2 linked regions of the Homo sapiens genome follow. Each later gene encodes a partner of the first gene's protein in a complex. Each region holds a gene or a part of one and is shown in the gene's direction. Other genes may lie near its edges.

Region 1 (10,473 bases):
ACTCTAGATTTTTCTTTTTTTGAGATGAAGTCTCACTCTTGTCGCCCAGGCTGGTGTGTAATGTTGCAATCTCAGCTCACTGCAACCCCTGCCTCCCATGTTCAAGCGATTCTCCTGCCTCAGCCTCCTGAGTGGCTGGAATTACAGGCACCTGCCACCATGCCTGGCTAATTTTTCTATTTTTAGTAGAGATGGGGTTTCACCATGTTGGCCAGGTTGGTCTCTGAGGCCAGCTTGACCTCAGGCAATCCACCCGCCTCCGCCTCCCAAAGTGCTGGGATTACAAGCATGAGCCACCGCTCCCAGCCCTCACTCCAGATTTTTCTAAGTAACAGCATAACATGTTTGTTCTTGGAAAAGAAAAAAGTCCTAATTTCCTCACTACCAAGAGGTAACCACTGTAGTTTTGACTTGTCTCAGGATTTTTCCTCTCATGTAAATAGCCACACTTTACAAGGAAGATAGGATCACACCGTCTGTACTGTTTTGAACGTATCTCCACGACTTGGTAGCTGGCAGCTATGTGTGTTCTGCGACAAGGACTGATAGGATTCCCAGGAGAAACTTTCCTGGCTAACAATTCCCTTTGGCAAAAAAAAAAAAAAAAAAAAAAAGCTGCAGCAGTCACAAAGATAATCTAGGTCCCTTCCGGCCCAGGTTATAATCATAGCCACCTGTGGATCAAAGTGGGGACTTGCCGGGGACACCCTGCCCACTCCCAACCAGGAAAACAGTCACTTACCGGGCGTGGTTACCATTCTTTACTGGGGCCAGTGGTCAGCACGACAGCCGCCATTAGCCCTTGGACCCAGTCTCTCAACACAGGCAGCTTGCCCCTGGGCTGCTCTGCGGGTGTCAGCTTTTGGGCCCTGCAGTTTTCCCCTACTGGGACGTCATGAACTATCACTTCTGACTCGAAACTGGCTTCCTTGAGCCCTTTGAGGGCAGGGTTTCCCAATGCCAAAAAGCCTCCTAAGGGGATATGTCCTTACTCGGCCTTTTGACTTTCTATTACTTTACACAGAAACCTGTGTCTTGAGCCTGGGAAAGAATCGCCTTGGGGACATGATATGGCTCTCAGAGTTGAGAATAAGCTGCCTCTGTCCTTATGGACTGCTCACTTCAGGCTAAACCTTGACTGCAAAAGGAAGGCCTGCTTCTTGAAGCACTGAGGTGTACTATTTTTAATAATTCTCATTCAGGTCAATGTCTCCATCGTGCAGCTGGGCAAACAGACCCAGAGAGGCAGCAGCACTCTCATTTGCCTAAGTCACACTGTGAGTTGTTAAGAGAGGATTCGATCTTATAACCTGTCTGACTTGCAGGCCTAGAACAGGGGTCAGCAAACTACAGCCTGCCTCCTGTTTTTGTACAGCCTTTTCAAGTCAAGAATGGTTTTTACATTTTTTTTTTTAATGCTTCAAAAAAAGTCAGCTGGGTGCAGAGGCTCACGCCTGTAATCCCAGCACTTCGGAAGCTGAGGCACAATACTGTGAGCCCAGGAGTTTGAGTCCAGCCTGGGCAACATAGTGAGACCGCCCCCCACCACCATCTCTACAAAATAGAGAATAAAAAATGAATAAATTGGGCATGGTGCACATCTATAGTCCCAGCTTCTTGGGAGGCCAAGTAGGGAGGACTGCATGAGCCCAGGAGTTTAAGGCTGCAGGGAGCCTGGGTGACAGAGTAAGACCCTGTCTCCAAAAAATAAAGAAAACAACCAAAACAACAGTATTTCATGACACATACAAATTATATGGAGGGCTGGGTGCAGTGGCTCACATGTGCAATTCCAACACTTTGGGAGGTTAAGGTGGGCAGATCACCTGAGGCCAGGAGTTCAAGACCAGCCTGGCCAACATGGTGAAACGCCATCTTTACTAAAAATACAAAAATTAGGCCGGGTGTGGTGGCTCACGCCTGTAATCCCAGCACTTTGGGAGGCTGAGACAGGTGGATCATGAGGTCAGGAGATCGAGACCATCCTGGCTAACACAGTGAAACCCCATCTCTACTAAAAATACAAAAAAAATTAGTCAGACGTGGTAGTGGGCACCTGTAGTCCCAGCTACTTGGGAGGCTGAGGCAGGAGAATGGTGTGAGCTTGCAGTGAGCCGAGATCGCACCACTGCACTCCAGCCTGGGCAACAGAGCGAGACTCTGTCTCAAAAAAAAAAAAATTAGCCAGGCATGGCATGGTGGCGGGTACCTGTAATCCTAGGTACTTGGGAGGCAGAGGCAGGAGAATTGGTGGAACCCAGGAGGCAGAGGTTGCATTGAGCCGAGATTATGCCACTGCACTCCAGTCTGGGCGACACAACGAAACTTCCATGTCAGGGGAAAGAAAATTATATAGAGGCCTGTACCAGGGCAGGGGCGGGCCCTGAGGAGGCGCCTTGGCCAGACCAGGCTGCACCCAGAGACCACAGGCTGCCTGCTCACCTCATGCCCGTCAGCCACCCTTCCCCTCCCTGCTCCCAGTCCCCGGTAGGGCCAGAGAGGCCACCACCATCGTCCGGTGGGGATCTGGTGGGAGTCTGGTGAAGGGAAGCCGAGAAATGGGTCCTGGGCAGGAGCTCACTGTGCTCCTGAGGGACGGGAGATGGAGGCTGAGTCACTCTGCTCATTGCTGGAGGCCGGGGTGCTGCCTTTCTAACGTGACCATTCGGCTCTCAGCTCTCACCCCTGCCGGTTTGATTCTGTTTTCCCTGGGTCCTGAATACCTAGAGACCCAGCAGAATGTCAGCCAGTGCTGCTCCTGTTAAAGCACTTCTGACTGATTTCTGTTAGTTTAGCTACTGTTCACTAGTTGATGCTGAAATTGCTCTTATTAAAGTTAGATAGCATTAGGATTGTATGGTACTATTGGTACTATTTTTCAAATAAAGATTGTTTAATACGATTCTTACGAATACATGACTTCCACATCTCTGGACCCTCCAGAAGTACATAGGATAAGTATTGTATTTTCATTTAGAGAAAGGGTCTCTCAGCTGGGTGCAGTGGCTCATGCCTATAAGCCCAGCACTTTGGGAGACCGAGGTGGGTGGATCACCTGAAGTCAGAAGTTCGAGACCAGCCTGGCCAAGATGGTGAAACCCTGTCTCCACTAAAAATACAAAAATTAGCTGGGTGTGGCGGCACACACCTGTAATCCCAGCTACTCAAGAGGCTGAGGCATGAGAATTGCTCGAACCCAGGAGATGGAGGTTGCAGTGAGCCGAGATGGTACCACTGCACTCCAACCTGGGCAATAGAGCAAGACCCTGTCTCAAAAAAAAAAAAAAAAAAAAAGAAGAAGAAGAAGAAGAAAGGGCCCCTTTTACCTCAACATCATTGTGTTCAATATGGATAGGAAGGTTTAAAACAGACCATTTCTGATCTATGAGCTGTTATCATACCAGTACGATAAGTTGGCCGGAATAAACTTTGGTTTTAAAACAAAACAAAAAATCATATGAAATTGAATTTCAGCACCCATAGATGAAGCTTTATTGGATACAGCCATGACCGTTTGTTTGTTTACGTAACTGTCTATGGCTGTTTTCACATTACAACAGCTGAGTTGAGTAATTGCAACAGAGTAGCTATTGTCCCAAAAACCCAAAATATTTACTATTTGGCCTTTTATAGAAAAGGTATGATGGCCGGGTAAGTCTGATGGCTGGGTGTGGTGGCCCATGCCTGTAAACCCAGCATTTTGGGAGGCGGAGGCAGGAGGATCGCCTGAGCCCAGGAGTCTGAGACCAGCCTGGGAAACATAGTGAGATCCTGTTTCTACAAAAAAAAATTTTTTTAATTAAAAATATTTTTAAAAAATAGAAAAGAATAAGTTTGCCAACCCCTAGGCTAGGATCGCTTTGAGGGGCAGGAATATAACATTATATCATTTACTTGGAATTGCGGAGGATTGGGGCGGGCAAGGAAAATGGAGGCCATATGACTCAATCCTCTCTCAGGACTTTCCATAAGGCCAGATGAGCCTCAGCCTCCCAGCAGAGAGGCGTTCCAGGTCAGGTTGCCCTGGACTACGCAGTGCACCAGGTCTGTGCTGTGACCACCTTCCTGGAGTTACCAGATGCCTTTGTTCCTAGGAGTTCAAGAAATTGAACGTGTGAATCTTTAGCCCAGAGAGAAATGGCTGGGAGGGGCAGACTAAACTATGCAGAGGGGAAGCTGCATATGAGTGAGGAAAGGTGCTTGGCACGGGGATTTGGGAAGCCCTGGCCATGCTCTGCCCTGAGGCTATCTCATCGGGAAGTGCCCACTAAAGAGTGGTGGGAAGGAAGTCCAGTCAGAAAGGCTCCAAATCTGAGGCAACTGCCAGGCCCAGTGCCACCGTGCGAGCTGTACTCAGGGCTCGGTGAAACTGGGTCGGGGTCGCAAAGCATCATCAGCTAAGCTGAGAGGAGCCCAGGGCTGAGGCTGGAAGGCAGGCCTGGAGAGCAGCCCACTCTCAGCAGTCACTTGCTCTAGATGGAAATGGGTCTGCTTCAGAGGAACTGGGTCTATGTGGTGCTCCTTCTTCTTCATCCTTTTTTTTTTTTTGAGTCAGGGTCTCACTCTGTTACCCAGGCTGGAGTGCAGTGGTGCAATCATAGCTCATGGCAACCTTTTAACTCCTGGGCTCAGGTGATCCTCCTGCCTTAGCCTCCCAAGTAGCTGGGACTACAAGTGCACACCACTATACCCTGCTATTTGTTTTGAGAGGGGCTGCGGTCTCACTATGTTGCCCAGGACAGTCTCGAACTCCTGGCCTCAAGCTGTCTTCCCACATCAGACTCCCAAAGTGTTAGGGTTACAGTCATGAGCCACGTGCCTGGCCCATTTGGTGCTTTGGATAGGCCCACCTAGGACAGGAATTCACGGGAGTTGAACTCCTCTTTACTGAATGCCAGCCCTCACTTTAGGAGGTACTCCTGGGGACACAAGGATGAGAAAGCCAGCTTGTTCCCATAGAGACTTCCATTCAAAGAGAAAGTCAAACAACGAACTAGAATGTACACAGCCAATCGAGGGAGGAAGAGGACTGCATTCAGGTGCCAGATCCTCCTCTTCCTCAGTGCCTTCCTCTACTCTCCCCTCTACAAAGAACTCTGGCCTCAATGTCAGCATTATACATCTGGACCACAGCTGGGCTGCTGTTCAATGGCCTCCCCATGACTAGCTTTCTGCTCTGGCCAAGCCCACCCTGGGCACTCGGGGCATCTGTTAAAAAGATAATCACTGCCAGGCATGGTGGCTCATGCCTGTAATCCCAGCACTTTGGGAGGCCGAGGTGGGCAGATCACCTGAGGTCAGAAGTTTGAGACCAGCCTGGCCAACACGGTGAAATCCCATCTCTACTAAAAATACAAAAACTAGCCAGGCATGGTGGTGGGCGCGTGTGGTCCTAGCTACTTGGGAGGCTGAGGCAGAAGAATTGCTTGAACCCGGGAAGTGGAGGCTGCAGTGAGCTGAGACTGTGCCACTGCACTTCAGCCTGGGCGACAGAGTGAGACTCCTCTCAAAATAAATAAATAAATAAAATTAAAAAATAAGATAATCACTACCAGGAATGATAACTCTTAGAAGAACTGGGAGCAGTGGAGAGGGCACCAAGATGATTTCCACGTCTGTCCAGATTTCCTGGAGCAAGGCAAATACATTTCCCAAATAAATGGACTTCTTCCTGAGAAAGTGGAGAACCCCAAACTTACACATCTTAGTAGAGGGCGCCATCTTCTGGCCTGGACCCTGCCCCCTCCCAGCCTGTGTGTGCCCGAGGACCAGGCTCTCCTAGGCTCCCAGTAAGTACATCATGTGTGACTGGGAAAGACAACCAGCTTTCTCCTTCCGTGGCTGGCTGCAGGATCATAAAACTGCTTTTCCACTTTACAATCAATCAGGTTGGGTCAGGCAGGATTTCAAGGCTTCTGTCCTAGGTAGATGGGCTCTGTAAAGTCCCGCTTAAAAAAAAAGTGAAGGTAGGTTCAAGATCTGCACACAACTGGGGATGAGGGGAGTCTGATGCTCTGCTGTGTGATCATGCAAGGAACTGTTCCCAGTGCAAGTTATGTCGCTTTCAGGGACACTTTCTTCATCCAAATAAGAATGTCAACCACACTAAAACTAATGGATGTCTCTGAGTGGTGTGTGTGTGCGGGTGCGCATGTGCAAATGTATCTTAATATTTAACTGTCAGACAGCCAGAAATAAGCTCTCATCCTGTATCTCACGCTAGTGGGGAGGTCTAGAAAAGGCGGGGGGGCTTGGACTGCCGGATCCCACCCACGATTAATGTGCTGAAGCCCCCTTCTGTTATGATACTAAAGTAATTCAAATTGAAGAGAAAGGACCGTTGGGTATTATTGTGTCTCTTGGCCCTCCAATGTGAGCGATCCCCATGGGAATGGACGGGATGTCTCTGAAAAGGAGTAGTGATTCTCACACTCTGAGAAAGCAGTCTCTTAGGGAAGGGATGGTGTCTTTAGGTTTGGATATCACGTGTAAAAACTGGGTGTGGAAAAGAAGGGAGTGACACTTCTTAAAGGTATGTTTTATTTTGTTTGAGATGGAGTCTCGCTCTGCCACCCAGGCTGGAGTGCAGTGGCGCGATCTTGGCTCACTGCGCCTCCTGCGCCTCCTGGGTTCAAGCGATTCTCCTGCCTCAGCCTCCTGAGTAGCTGGGATTAGAGACGTGCACCACCACGCCCAGCTAATTTTTGTGTATTTTTAGTAGAGACGGGATTTCACCATGTTGCCCAGGCTGGTCTCAAACTCCCGAGCTCAGGTGATCCACCTGCCTCGGCCTTCCAAAGTGCTGGGATTACAGGCGTGAGCCACCACGCCCAGATAGCTCAAGGTTTTTTAAAAAACATCTGAATCTGCGTGCTTGCGCCGCTCCAGGTCTCCATCACTCCATATTCTTTCACTCCAAACTCCTTTAGACATTCCTGCCTGGCCTCCAAAAGCGTTTGGGTTTGCATCTCTGGATTTTTTTTTCAACTTCCTCATTTTACAGTTGAGAAAAACAGGAGGTAAAGAGAGGAAGGAATCTGCTTTAGGAAGCAGCTCTGGAAAGCAGAACACAGTTTCCTGCTCCCGCTCTCTCTCCACTACTCTCCCTTTAAAAAATATACTTTCTTCTATGGCCAATTAAACATTCATTACCAACCTGCGATTCCCTTAGGACTTTAAAAGGAGGGTTGTTCAGGGGTGACAACAATCTTCTGTCTGTTATACGTGTCCATGTAGGCAAAAACTTTCCCAAATTCAACCCCAGTCTAGGTCCCAAAAACTAACTACAGAGTGCAGGGAAACCAGACAGCTACAGTTCAGCCCAGGAACCTCCTCTCCTAGCTCACGTTTCTACCCGAGCCCGCGGAGGCACAGACCGGAAGTGGCGCGCAGCCTCCCAGCGGAGGGAACCGCCTATGCCTCCGTCGCGCTGGCCGGAAGACGGGGGTGCAACCCTTTGAAGTGTCCCCTCCTACTTCTTGCTGCCTCACGGTTGCTGTTGCAGACCCAGGAGTCTCTGAAGGCTTCCGCGGCTTTGGGGCCGGTTGTGAGATGCCAGGCAGAGGCCGCTGCCCGGACTGCGGCTCCACGGAGCTGGTGGAAGACTCGCACTATTCGCAGAGCCAGCTGGTGTGCTCCGACTGCGGCTGCGTGGTCACCGAGGGGGTCCTTACCACTACCTTCAGCGACGAGGGCAATCTCCGAGGTACTTGTGGCCCTGGGGACAGCCTGGGGCGGTGGAGGGATTAACATCAGATTCCTTTTGCCTCCCCGCTCCCCCCATACTCCTAACTGTAACGCACACACTTAATTTGAGAGAAAATGACCTAAAGTGAGCGAGGGAGCTGAAGGAGATGGGGGCTGCCATTCATCTGTGTTTTCCCAGCACTTAGTATCGGGCATAGATGGTGCGTGTAATAAATATTGAATAAGTGAGACAGAAACAAAAGTTCCACTCATCTTGCCATGTCTGGTCATTGTGGAAGGATTGCCGATACGATTATAGCAGGTATTATTACCCTGAAATAGTTTTAAGCACAAACTGGCAAAACATCACTTTTCTTTGCTTTCCAAGTTTCTGACCAGTGCAGCCCTCAAAATCTGCAGCCATTGTCTGGGTGGGGTGGCTTACGCCTGTAATCCCAGTGCTTTGGGAGGCAGAGCCGAGAGGATTGCTTGAGCCCAGGATCTCGAGACCAGCCTTGGTAACGTAACGAGACAAGTGCCTAAAAAAATTTTTTTTTAATTAGCCAGGTATGGTGGCATACACCTGTAATCCCAGCTACCCAGGAATCTGAGGTAGGAGGATTGCTTGAGCCTGGAAGTTGAAGGCTGCCGTGAGCTGTGATCGCACCACTGTGCTCCAGCCTGGACTATAGAGGGAAACTCCTTAAACAAACAACAACAAAATCTGCTGCTAGGAAAATTGCCTGTATGGAATGTACTGGAAGGATGACTGGAAATTTGGAACACTTGGAGCTGCTTTAATGCAGTCCTAACCTTTCCCAGTCTCTGTGTATTCGGAACCTCTTGTAGACATAGAAAACCAGATGGGGCCTTTAACTGTGCAGCAGCAGATGCTCAATGATTTGAATTTTGCGTCCTGGTTTTGTGTGGTGGGAGGGCAGGGGTCTGATGAATAAAGGCTAAGCACACTATTTGTTGTTTATTATCTTACAGAGGTAACATATTCCCGAAGCACAGGGGAAAACGAACAAGTTAGTCGCAGCCAGCAACGAGGTGAGAATTGACCTTTTACAACACAGTGGCTTTAAAGAAAACTATCCTAGGCCAGGTGCTGTGGCTCACGCCTGTAATCCCAGCACTTTGGGAGGCCTAGGCAGGTGGATCACCTGAGGTCAGGAGTTCAAGACCAGCCTGGCAAACATAGCGAAACCCCGTCTCTACTAAAAATACAAAAATTAGCTGGGCATGGTGGCATGTACCTGTAGTCCCAGCTACTTGGCAGGCTGAGGCAGGAGAATCGCTTGAACCTGGGAGGTGGAGGTTGCAGTGAGCTGAGATCGCGCCACTGCACTCCAGCCTGGGTGACAGAGTGAGACTCCATCTCAAAAAAATAATAATGAGCCGGGCGCGGTGGCTCATGCCTGTAATCCCAGCACTTTGGGAGGCCGAGGCGGGCGGATCACGAGGTCAGGAGATTGAGACCATCCTGGTTAACACGATGAAACCCCATCTCTACTAAAAATACAAAAAAATTAGCCGGGCGTGATGGTGGGTGCCTGTAGTCCCAGCTACTCGGGAGGCTGAGGCAGGAGAATGGCGTGAACCCGGGAGGCGGAGCTTGCAGTGAGCCGAGATCGCACCACAGCACTCCGGCCTGGGTGACAGAGCGAGACTCTGTCTCAAAAAATAATAATAATAATAATAATAATAATAATAATAAAAGAAAACTATCCTGGTGGCCTAGCCCAGCTTTTCACTTTTCCTATTTTCAGCATTGCTGGTGTGAGGTAGAGTAGAAGAGAATGGTAATTAGGAATTTAAAATGGGGATGGTGGCTCACACCTGTAATCCCAGACTTTGGGAGGCCGAGACGGGCAGATCGCTTGAGGTCAGGAGTTCAAGACCAGCCTGGCCAACATGGTGAAACCCCGTCTCTACTAAAAATACAAAAATTAGCTGGGCCTGGTGGTGCACACCTGTAATCCCAGCTACTCGGGAGGCTGAGGCAGGAGAATCACTTAAACCTGGAAGGAGGAGGTTTCAGTGAGCCAAGATGGCGCCACTGCACTTCAGCCTGGGCAACTGAGCCAGACTCTGTCTCAGAAAATAATAAAATAAATAAAACAAATAGGGATGGTTCTGAGAGAGGCAGCAATTCAGTATAAGGTTTGGGTTTGATCAGACGTATGTTTGAGGTAGCCTCTAAGAGCCTGGATAAAACTTGGGCTTGGCCCTGAATCAAACCAGCCTGCAAAAACTAGTGGGCTGAAATGTGACTTCTTTACACAAATGTTTTTGTGTCTTTAGAATGACTATACCAAGTGTCACTCCTGTCTATGCAGAAAGGTACATAATTTGTGCATCTGATATCTGAGGCAAGTTTAGCAGATCTAAGTAAGTCCTAGCAGAATTTTCTAGGAGTTGCACGATAGCTCCTTTGACCCCTCTAACTCTTGCCGTGGGTTTTTCCTAGGTCTCCGGCGAGTGAGAGACCTTTGTCGAGTTCTGCAGTTGCCACCAACATTTGAGGATACCGCGGTTGCCTACTACCAACAGGCATATCGGCACTCTGGCATCCGAGCGGCCAGGCTGCAAAAGAAGGAGGTGTTGGTTGGGTGCTGCGTCTTAATCACCTGCCGACAGCATAACTGGCCCCTAACAATGGGGGCCATCTGCACGCTGTTGTATGCAGATTTGGATGTGTTTTCTAGCACTTACATGCAGATAGTGAAGCTCCTGGGACTGGATGTGCCATCTCTGTGCTTGGCAGAACTGGTGAAGACCTAT
Region 2 (10,622 bases), on another chromosome or scaffold:
TGTTGCCTTCACTATTCCTTTGCTTCTTATTCCTCCCCACTGCCCGGATTATTTTACTAATGTGCACACAGTCTCTAGGTAGAAGTTTGTATGACTACATTGCTTGCTGCATATCTCTGATATGGATTTTAATTACAGTTAGCTAACAAATTATTCTTTTTATTTATATTTTTTCAGTTTAAACTAGAGTCTATTAATAGATACTGTGGCTTGGTAGAAAATTAAACTTTTCTGAATGGCCTCTGGGTTTTAGAACACTGGTGGACACTGTAACTAATACTCAATCTGATCTCAACAACTTTCCTCTCCATGGGCAGTGTCATTTTTGCTTTGTCATGTGACCTTTCTAGCCTTTGAATCTCCAGAATCCTCAAAAGCAATTCTAAGATTCTGTGTTTTATCAAATTATACACCTATGTCTAACAGAAAGTTTTCCCCCTCTCCTACTCCACATATGTTGGCCTGTTCAAGATGCTATGTAAGAGAGATAGTAGGAAAATAGTCTCTCAAAGAATGCATTAAAAATTCTTTAGGCTGGGCATGGTGACTCACACCTATAATCCCAGCACTTTGGGAGGCTGAGACAGGAGGATCACTTGAGGCCAGGAACTCAAGACAAGCCTGGACAACATAGCAAGACCCATCTCTATTAAAGAAAAGGTACTTTATTAGATAAACTAGTGAGTATTTCTTTGAAATTTAATCTTCTAGGTTAATTTTGCATCTTACCTACTTCATATAAATATTTTAAGTTTTTTGTCATGATTGGTGATTTGGTGATGTTTGTTTGGAGGTTTATATATATATATATATATATATTTGAAACACACACACACACACACACACACACACACACACACACCCATATTTTTTTAAAGACAAGGGTCTTGCTCTGTCACCCAGGCTGGAGTGCAGTGGTGTGATCATGGCTTACTGCAGCATTCACCTTTTGGGCTCAATTGATCCTCTTGCCTCAGCCTCCCAAGTAGCTGGGACTACAGGTGCATGCCACCACATCTGGCTAATTTTTAAATTTTTTTGTAGAGACAGGGTTTCGCCATGTTGCCCAGGCTGGTCTTGAACTCCTGGGCTGAAGGGATCCTCCTTCCTTGGCCTCCCAAAGTGCTGGGATTATAGGTGTGAGCCACCACGCCTGGCCATGAATATTTTATAGATTCTTAAACTCCGTGTTTTAGAAAAACACATATGCAGACCTTAAAGCACATTTATAGTTTTGTGCTCATTCCATACCTTATTTTCTCCATTCATGATCCTCTTGTTTTGCCTTTCTTCTCAAATTTGTGATCTGAGGAAAGTTCGTAGATCCACTGTATATTTTAAGTTGAGAAATAATCTAGTTCAATTTTATATCTGATATCCAGTCTCAGATACTGCCCTTCAGTTAATTCTGTACTTCTTTTGTTACTTAGAAACAATCAATCTATTGCTTTGGTGGAATGGCAGTTTAAAAAATCTAAGCACATAGAATATAATTATAACATTGCATATCTGTATCTTACAATCTGAACTGTTATGGAAATAATGAAATTATTAATAAAGCCTTTGCTTCAAGCATTTATATGTTTAAATAATACGCCTGTTTTCAAAATGTGACTTTATAAAGATAGTTTATTTTATCTCTTCCCATGGTACCCAAACCAAGATTGCTAGCACAGTAATCTCACTAAAAGCTAGATGTTTCTGGATGGAGATGAAAAGTATCATAAATCAAAAAATGGAATGCGGTCCATTCAGGACTAATCAAATTAAATTTCCTTTATTGATTGCTGTTAATTTTACATTTAACGTTGTCAATTGCTAAAGTTAATGATGGATATAAACACTTCAGTTATGTAAACAAGTACAATTTGAAAAGCAATCTTATTCCTAAGGACCTGTCTTACAGTATCAAAAATTGCATTATTGAAAACAGTTATTTCAGTGAGGAAGGATAGTATAGGACCTAAAGAAGTTGAAACAAGCAATAGCATACTTTTGTTGTTTTGTTTTTGTTTCTGTTTGAGACAGAGTCTTACTCTGTTGCCCAGGTGGAGTGCAGTGGCATGATCTTGGCTCACTGCAACCTCCGCCCCCTGGGTTCCAGCTATTTTCCTGCTTTAGCCTCCCATGTAGCTGAGATTACAGGCGCGTGCCACCACGCCCTGCTAATTTTTGTATTTTGAGTAGAGACAGGGTTTCATCATGTTGGCCAGGCTGGTCTCAAACTCTTGACCTTAAGTGATCCACCTGTCTCAGCCTTCCAAAATGCTGGGATTACAGGCTGAGCCACCATGCCCAGCCTAGCATACTTTTAAGTAAATCTTTTGCTTATTTGTTTTGTTTTTTGTTTGTTTGTTTTGAGATGGGATCTTGCTCTCTTGCCCAATCTGGAGTGCAGTGGCATGATCATGGCTTACTGCAGCCTCATCCTTCCTGGGCTCAGGTGATCCTCCCACCTCAGCCTCCTGAATAGCTGGGACTACAGGTGCACGCCACCTCACTTGACTAATTTTTTTTTTTTTTGTAGAGATGGGATTTCTACCAAAAACTCATGGGCTCAAGCCATCTGCTTCAGCCTCCTGAAGTGCTAGGAGTACAGGCATGAAGCATCATGCCCAGCTCAATACGTCTTTTTTTAAGCTGTTGAATGTATAGTTATATACCTGTTCAGTCCGACATGGCCGAATACAATCTAGTGTTTCATTTGATCTAGCTTTTGCCCAATATTAATAACTTTTCCTAACCAGTCATTTAAAAGCCCTTTCATTCATTTATATGTTTATTGATTTTACCATCTATTATAATAAACAGAAAGCAAAACAAAAAGTGCTGCTGCTTTTCTGGAGAGCAAGGTGCTTGCTTTGGATAGTGGTTGTGTGCCCAGTAGCATTCAGCAAAGTATTATTGTGTATTTGGTCTGTCCTTTGATTCTTTACTTATGTTATGAAATAACAAGCCTTTAGAGAACTATCTGTATAGGAAATCTCATATAAAATTGGTTTTAAAAGGTGAGGAGGGCAGACCTCATTTGTAGTCCTAAGATTTAATCTTGGTCAAGTCATACTTGTATCCAGGTATTTGAGGTGGTCAGGTCTATTATGGCAAACCATTTGTCTGTATAAAAGATAGAAGGGATGAAGAGGTAGAAATAGCAGACATACATCAATCTAGCTCCAATGCAGAGAACTGGAGAGTCTTTCCCAGTCAGTATTTATAAATGGTAGTGTGAATGACAATTGGAAAGACACTGTTAGGATCAAATAGCTTCTATACTGATTGACCTTACTAGATATATATATATATTTAAACTTATTGCTGTGATTTCAAAAGGTGGGATTTTTTTTCTTTTAATTTTTAAATTTTACCCAGCGATTCCTAGGCCTTCCTTAATTTTTTTGAATTTGAGAGTTTCTGGTGTTTCTGTAGTGATTTCTCAAACATCATCTCTTCAGCAGGCAGTCTGGTTTAAAACTTGATTGTGTGCCCCCTTTTTTTTTTATAGCGTTCAAGAGAATAATAAGGCAAATAAACTTAACCAAGTCCCAATTCTAAGGACTCGATTTCAGAAACCAAAGCCAAATATAGGAAGAGGAACTGGAAGGAGAGAAATTTCCTCAAAGGAAGAGGTACTAGAGAAGATTCTTGTCTCTGGGGAAATGGCGGCAGCATTGAGAGAAACTGTAAGACTAGACACCTCACCAAAGGAGATGGTACCAGCAGAGATTAATACTAAAGAAATGCAGTCAGATTTAAAAGAAACTGGAAGAAGAGCCATTTCTCCCAGGGAGAAGATTCTAGATGTGATTGATGACACCATAGAAATGGAGACAGGTCTGAAAGCAATGGGAAGAGAGATTTGTCTAAGGGAGAAGACGCCAGAGGTGATTGATGCCACTGAGGAAATAGACAAAGATTTGGAAGAAGCTGGAAGAAGAGAAATATCCCCACAGAAAAATGGCCCAGAGGAGGTTAAGCCTCTAGGTGAAGTGGAGACAGATTTGAAAGCAACTGGAAATGAGAGTTCCCCAAGGGAGAAGACACCAGAGGTGACTGATGCCACTGAGGAAATAGACAAAAATTTGGAAGAAACTGGAAGAAGAAAAATATCCCCAAGGGAAAATGGCCCAGAGGAGGTCAAGCCTGTAGATGAAATGGAGACAGATTTGAACGCAACTGGAAGAGAGAGTTCTCCAAGGGAGAAGACACCAGAGGTGATTGATGCTACTGAGGAAATAGATTTGGAAGAAACTGAAAGAGAAGTATCCCCACAGGAAAATGGACTAGAGGAGGTCAAGCCTCTAGGTGAAATGGAGACGGATTTGAAAGCAACTGGAAGAGACAGTTTCCCAAGGGGGAAGACACCAGAGGTGATTGATGCCATTGAGGAAATAGAGATAGATTTGGAAGAAACTGAAAGAGAAATATCCCCACAGGAAAATGGCCTAGAGGAGGTTAAGCCTCTAGGTGAAATGCAAACAGATTTGAAAGCAACCGGAAGGGAGATTTCCCCAAGGGAGAAGACACCAGAGGTGATTGATGCCACTGAGGAAATAGACAAAGATCTGGAAGAAACTGGAAGAAGAGAAATATCCCCAGAGGAAAATGGCCCAGAGGAGGTCAAGCCTGTAGATGAAATGGAGACAGACTTGAAAACAACTGGAAGAGAGGGTTCCTCAAGGGAGAAGACACGAGAGGTGATTGATGCTGCTGAGGTAATAGAGACAGATTTGGAAGAAACTGAAAGAGAAATATCGCCACAGGAAAATGGCCCAGAGGAGGTCAAGCCTGTAGGTAAAATGGAGACAGATTTGAAAGAAATTAGAGAAGAAATTTCCCAAAGGGAAAAGGTGCTAGCAGAGTTCAGTGCTATAAGGGAAAAGGAGATTGATTTGAAAGAAACTGGAAAAAGAGACATTCCCATCATGGAGAAAGTATCAGGAAAGATGGCTGTTGTTGAAGAAATGGAGGCAGATTTGAAAGAAACTGGAAAAGAAAATTTTAGAGAGAGAGGATCTGAAGAGATCTGTGTTACTGAGGAAAAGGTGGCAGAATTGAAACAAACTGGAAAAACAGACATTTCTCCAAGGGAAAACGAGCTAGAGGAGACCAGTACCTCAAGACAAACTGACACACATTTAATGCAGAGCGGTAGCAATGACTTCAGTGCTGTGCCTTCACTAGATATTCAGGTATGTATTTTTCTGTCCTTTAAAAGTTTTTTGAATGCTTTTTTCAGAGGAAATAAATAATTCCATGATTATTTTGTCCTTAAGTCCAACAACACTTAAAAATCTCTAAAAGTCTAAAGTCTTTTGTAGCCCTAAGTTTCTATGTTTCAGTGCCTTGAAGAAACTGTATGTTCTTTTTTAAAAAGATAACTTTAGGCTGGGCACACCTTTAAACCCAACACTTTGGGAGGCCAAGGTGGAAGGATTACTTGAGCCCAGGAGTTTGAGACCAGCCTGGGCAACATAGAGAGACCTTGTCTCTACAAAAAATAAGATAAAATAAAAATAAATAAAATAAATAAAAAATAAAATACAATAACAAGGTGTAAGCCTGTAGTCCCAGCTACTTGGGAGGCTGAGGTGAGAGGATCACTTGAACCCTGGAGGTTGAGGCTGCAGTGAGCTGTGATTGTGCCATTGTACTCCACCCTGGGTGACAGAGTGAGACCCTGTCTCAAAAAGAAATAAAAATAATTTCCAACTGTGAAAAAGTCACTGTTATTATTATTATTTTTTTTCTTTAAGTCAGATGGGCAAGGATCAAACTTTTCTTTTGGCTTAGGTTTGAGATCTCAAAAATGTCACTGTTCTTAATATCATTTGAAGTTACTCTTTTAGGTAAAAGAAGAATAGGAAATTAGACTGAATTTGTACTAACCCTAGCGTGAACACACATTATTTCTTTTGGCCACATCTGTATCTGCTTTTGTTTCTTGCCCCACCTGACTTACTTCACTTCTAAAAGTTCTTTTTGTTTTTTCAAGTTACTTTGAAGTTCATGATCTTCTAACATTTTCAAGGACTTTTTTTTTTTTCTAACTTTTAAAAATAGATAATGACATTTGTGGTTTGGGAAAGTAATAATATGCAACATAAAAGGGTTTCCTGAATTCCAAGTTTTAACATTTGGAAATTAAATTTTATTCAAAAATTAAAAACTTCTAAAGTTTTAAAGGAAAGTGTTTAGAATTTAGTAGACTTTTGTTTTAAATATATAAGATGTTTAAATACTCTTTTATTTGTGCTGATTTACTATGACTGTTCCTCTAGAACATTAGCAGTGAAGTACTGTCGATGATGCATACACCTGTAGAAGAAAAAAGAAATTCTGAAAAAGAAGTATCAAGTCACTTCAGTCATTTCAAGATTTCTTCACAGACTCATGAATCTGATAAAACAGAAGTCCAGGGGATTCAATCTCCAGATGTTCCAGAGCAGTTTTCAGATATTAATTTAAGGTACAAGTGTGTTTTTAAAGAAAAAGATATTAAGTTATAGTTGCAGATTACGTTAAACTAAGTGAGGTTTCAAGATATAACATATACAGGATAGTGTTAGAGCTTTTAAGATAGTTTTGGGAAGACTGGGAGAGAGGATTGAGGTCACTCTGACAGTCAATTGTGAAAGTTACTGACATACAAAATTGTATGTAACAGTCTTAAATCAATACAGGTTTGATAGACTCATATTTTCTTTGTGCAGAGATGGTGTAATTCCTAGGCTCATACCTGGATTGTACCACTCATGGTTTTCAGGATCTGCCAGATAGTTCGATTTGTTTTCCTGTTAAGAATTAGAATTAGGCCAAGTATGGTGGCTCACACCTGTAATCCTAGCAATTTGGGAGGCTGAGGTGGGTGGATCCTTTGAGCCTAGGAGTTTGAGACCAGCCTGGGCAACACGCTGTAGAAACCCCATCTCTATAAAATAAAAAAACAAAAACTAGCTGGGTGTGGTGGCACATGCCTGTAGTCCCAGCTACTTGGGAGGCTCAGATGGGAAGATCACTTGAGCCCGCGGAGGTCAAGGCTGCAGTGAGCTATGATTGTGTCATTGCACTCCAGCCTGGGGGATAGAACAAGACCCTGTCTCCAAAAAAAAAAAAAAAAAAAAAAAAATTAAATGTTTACCGCCAGTCTCTAAGGTTGTACTGAGACTCCGTTTCCACTGCCCCTTCAGTTCATTCTAAAGCTTGATAATCCTTGTTCCAAAAGCAAATCTCTTCCTCAAGAACAGAAGCCACTTGAAATTAAACCAGCACCTTTTGTGAGGAGCCGATTCAAAAGACCAAAACCAAACTTAGCAAGAGCAGCTTTGAAGAGAGAGACTACAGAATCAGAAAAATATATATATGAGAAGAAATCAGAAACCAAGAAAATGGAGACTATTGTGATGCAAGAAAATAATGAACAAACTGATACTCTCCCTTCTCAACATGTGAGTGTATTTGAGATGGAAGTTCTGTGTGGGTGTTTTTTTTTTTTTTTAAGTTATTAGGACTACTAAAAGCACCTGGCATTAAAATTCTACAAATATTTCTGTGTAATTTTTGCTGCATGTGATATTGCTCCCATGCTTAATGTGCCTCATTGTTCCACATAATTTGTGTAAGAATCTCAGATATCTGATAATGGGCAAACGTGTTGTGGGAAAGCGTTCAGGTCTGGGCTCTGGTTCCAGTTCCAGCTATGTGACCATTGATTAAACAATTTTCTTCATAGAAAAAATGACAATAATAGTTTTTTATTTTTTTTATTTTTATTTTTTTGAGATGAAGTCTCACTCTGTTCCCAGGCTGGAGTGCAGTGGCGCGATCTCGGCTCACTGCAACTTCCACCTCCCAGGTTCAAGCGATTCTCCTGCCTCAGCCTCCTGAATGCTGGGACTACAGGCGCGTGCTGCCATGTCCGGCTAATTTTTTTTTTTGTATTTTTAGTAGAGATGGGGTTTCACTATGTTAGCCAGGCTGATCTCGAACTCCTAACCTCGTGATCTGCCTGCTTTGGCCTCCCAAAGTGCTGGGATTACGCTGAGCCGTGGCGCCCAGCGAGAATAATCGTTTTTTATTTCACTCTCTTGTGAAGGTGAAATGAAGAGTTAAAAGCTTGATTTGAGTTAAAGGTGATATTTTATTTACTTTATTAACTTGGTCCATAACAGATTAAGATTGTGTGACATACCATCAAAAAAACATTGAAACGAAATGAATAATTATAAACTGAATGTTTTCCACATTCAGTGGAAGTCCTTCTTAGAATTAAAATTCTTATTTGATGTCTTAAAATAGCTCAGTACTTTACTGTGCATCAACATTTGTACTATTTCTCCTAAGCTTATATTCATAAAAGATAAGTTACATTTGTATTATACTTTCTGATTATAGAAATTTTAATTTGGAAAAATATATGTATTCTAAAAAGTGAGAGTCTTTTATAATGTCACGTCCCTTTCCCCCAAGTTAATCATACAGCAATTTTGAATATATCCACTTACACTTTTTCGTCTTACAGTTATAAAATGATAAAATGGGAAGGTATTTTTATTGTTTTCCAAAATGACATTAATTCTTGCTTTCTGATTTTTCCACTTACAGTATTGTGAGCTTCTTTTTAGATCAGTACAAAGAGATATATCTTCTTTTAAATGATTAGGTACTATTGCATTGTAAAGAAATTAAAATTTATTTATTCCATCCCCTAATGATATATCTGTTTTATTTCTGATTTTTTTGTTTGTCTTTTCCGGTGAGGGAGGTGGTGCTTAAATTGTTACAATAAATATTTTTGTGTGTATATTTCTACTTGTTGAGTATTTATAAGATACATTTCTAGAAGTGGAATTGCTGGGAATTTAGAATTTTGGTATAGACTACCCTATTATTCTTCACGAAGATGATATCAGTTTATACTTGTAAAGTTCTTATTTCCTTATACTTTTAGCAACTGTGAATGAAATTTTTTTTCTGTCTTCTAGGATGAAGCTTCCCTAATGATATCAAGAGAAAAAGACACATTAGGTCACAGGAATGAGGAGGCTGTGATATTGCCATGTACACAGACTGAAAGGAACCTTTCACCTTCAAATTCTTGTGAACCTAAAGAGGAGTCTCAGTCAGCACCAGTCCAGAAAAATGACTCAGTTGTTTCTGTGGGGTAAACAGTGATTTTCTTTGACAATATAAAATAAGAGAGATACTTCTTTTAAATATTTCTAATTTTTATTGAGATATGTTAATGCATTTAAAAAGTGAACATAAAGAATATTGGTTTAATTTTATTGATACAGCAGACTGCCTAAAATATAATATCAGATTGAATTCAACACCTTCTAATGGTTGCCTGCTTATCTGCATTGTCAGCTGCGTAAGAGTGTATACAAAGCAATGCATTTAAAAACTACAAGTTGAGCATCCCTAATAAAAAATTCTGAAATGTGCCACAATTTAAAACTTTTTGAGAGCTGACATGATGCTCAAGAAATGCTCAGTGGAGCATTTTGGATTTTCAAAGTAGGGATGCTCAACTGATAAGTATAATGCAAATATTTCCAAATCTAAAAAAATCTGAAATCTGAAACATTTCTGGTCCTAAGCATTTTGGATAGGGCTACTCAGCTTATATGTATATAAGCTATATATATTCATTAACTTTTAAAAATTAGTATACACATAAGATAAAATTTACCATTTTAACTATTTTTTAATATACAGTGGCATTAAGTGTATTCACATTGTTGTCCCGTTGCCACCACCATTCATCTCTAGACTTTCTTTTTCATCTTCATAAAATGAAACTCTCTACCCATTAAATACTAACTCATTCTCCTCCTCTTCCAGCTCCTGGCAACCACCATTCTATCTGTATATTTAGCTACTTTAGGCATATTATATAAGTTTATTACCTTTTAAGAATTGACATAACTGTTTTCTTTTGTAAAATAAGATGTTTATAATCAGAAAGCAATTTCCCTTTAATGGTACAAAGTATTTTTTAGAGTGTTTATTAGAGGAGATCCAAATTTTACATTTTTACATTAGTTTTCAGCTTTTTACAGTCAAGCGCCCTGCCTTTCTCCCTGTCCCCTTGTTTAGGACTAATAATGTAAACACTTTCCAGCAAGAAATGAAGGAAAGTGTTATCCAAACTGCTCGACAAGTAAGGGGCCGACTTCAGAGACCGAGACCAAATATAAGAAAGACAGGACAGAGGCAAATAGTAGACAAAGGTGAAGCCAAAGGCATAATTAAGGAAGGAAGAACGATATTACCAAAAGATGAAACTGAAAAGAAAGTCTTAACTGTGGTGAGTTATTGTTATGTAATTAAATTTAGCCTTTTAATGCATTTAAAATGTCAAGTTATAGCTCAGACATAGCTTAGAAATACAGGCATCTGACACTTATTCTACTCAATGAATACAGTTTCCAGTTTTGTTTCAGATTTGCTCTTCTGGATTTTTTTTTTAAGTGAAAATAGATTTATTTCTTTTCTAATTAATGAAGCTATTCATCGTAAAATGTTCCATTAGGACAAAATAATATAAATACCGCAAATCTTACTCTGAGATAACCACTGAAAACCTTTTGACATATCTTACTGGATTTATTTCCATGCAC

The links.
Region 2: BRF2 (region 1) and BDP1 share a complex: the UniProt entries of both Homo sapiens proteins name them as parts of the TFIIIB complex.

What each region holds. Positions count from the first base shown.
Region 1 is NC_000008.11:37,846,862-37,857,334, reverse strand, and holds the start of BRF2 (transcription factor IIIB 50 kDa subunit), read left to right. Parts: upstream 1-7,473; 5' UTR 7,474-7,551; coding exon 7,552-7,705; intron 7,706-8,679; coding exon 8,680-8,739; intron 8,740-10,159; coding exon 10,160-10,473. UniProt on the Homo sapiens protein: General activator of RNA polymerase III transcription. Factor exclusively required for RNA polymerase III transcription of genes with promoter elements upstream of the initiation sites.
Region 2 is NC_000005.10:71,505,963-71,516,584, forward strand, and holds part of BDP1 (transcription factor TFIIIB component B'' homolog), read left to right. Parts: intron 1-3,502; coding exon 3,503-5,189; intron 5,190-6,278; coding exon 6,279-6,466; intron 6,467-7,222; coding exon 7,223-7,445; intron 7,446-8,981; coding exon 8,982-9,160; intron 9,161-10,098; coding exon 10,099-10,309; intron 10,310-10,622. UniProt on the Homo sapiens protein: General activator of RNA polymerase III transcription. Requires for transcription from all three types of polymerase III promoters. Requires for transcription of genes with internal promoter elements and with promoter elements upstream of the initiation site.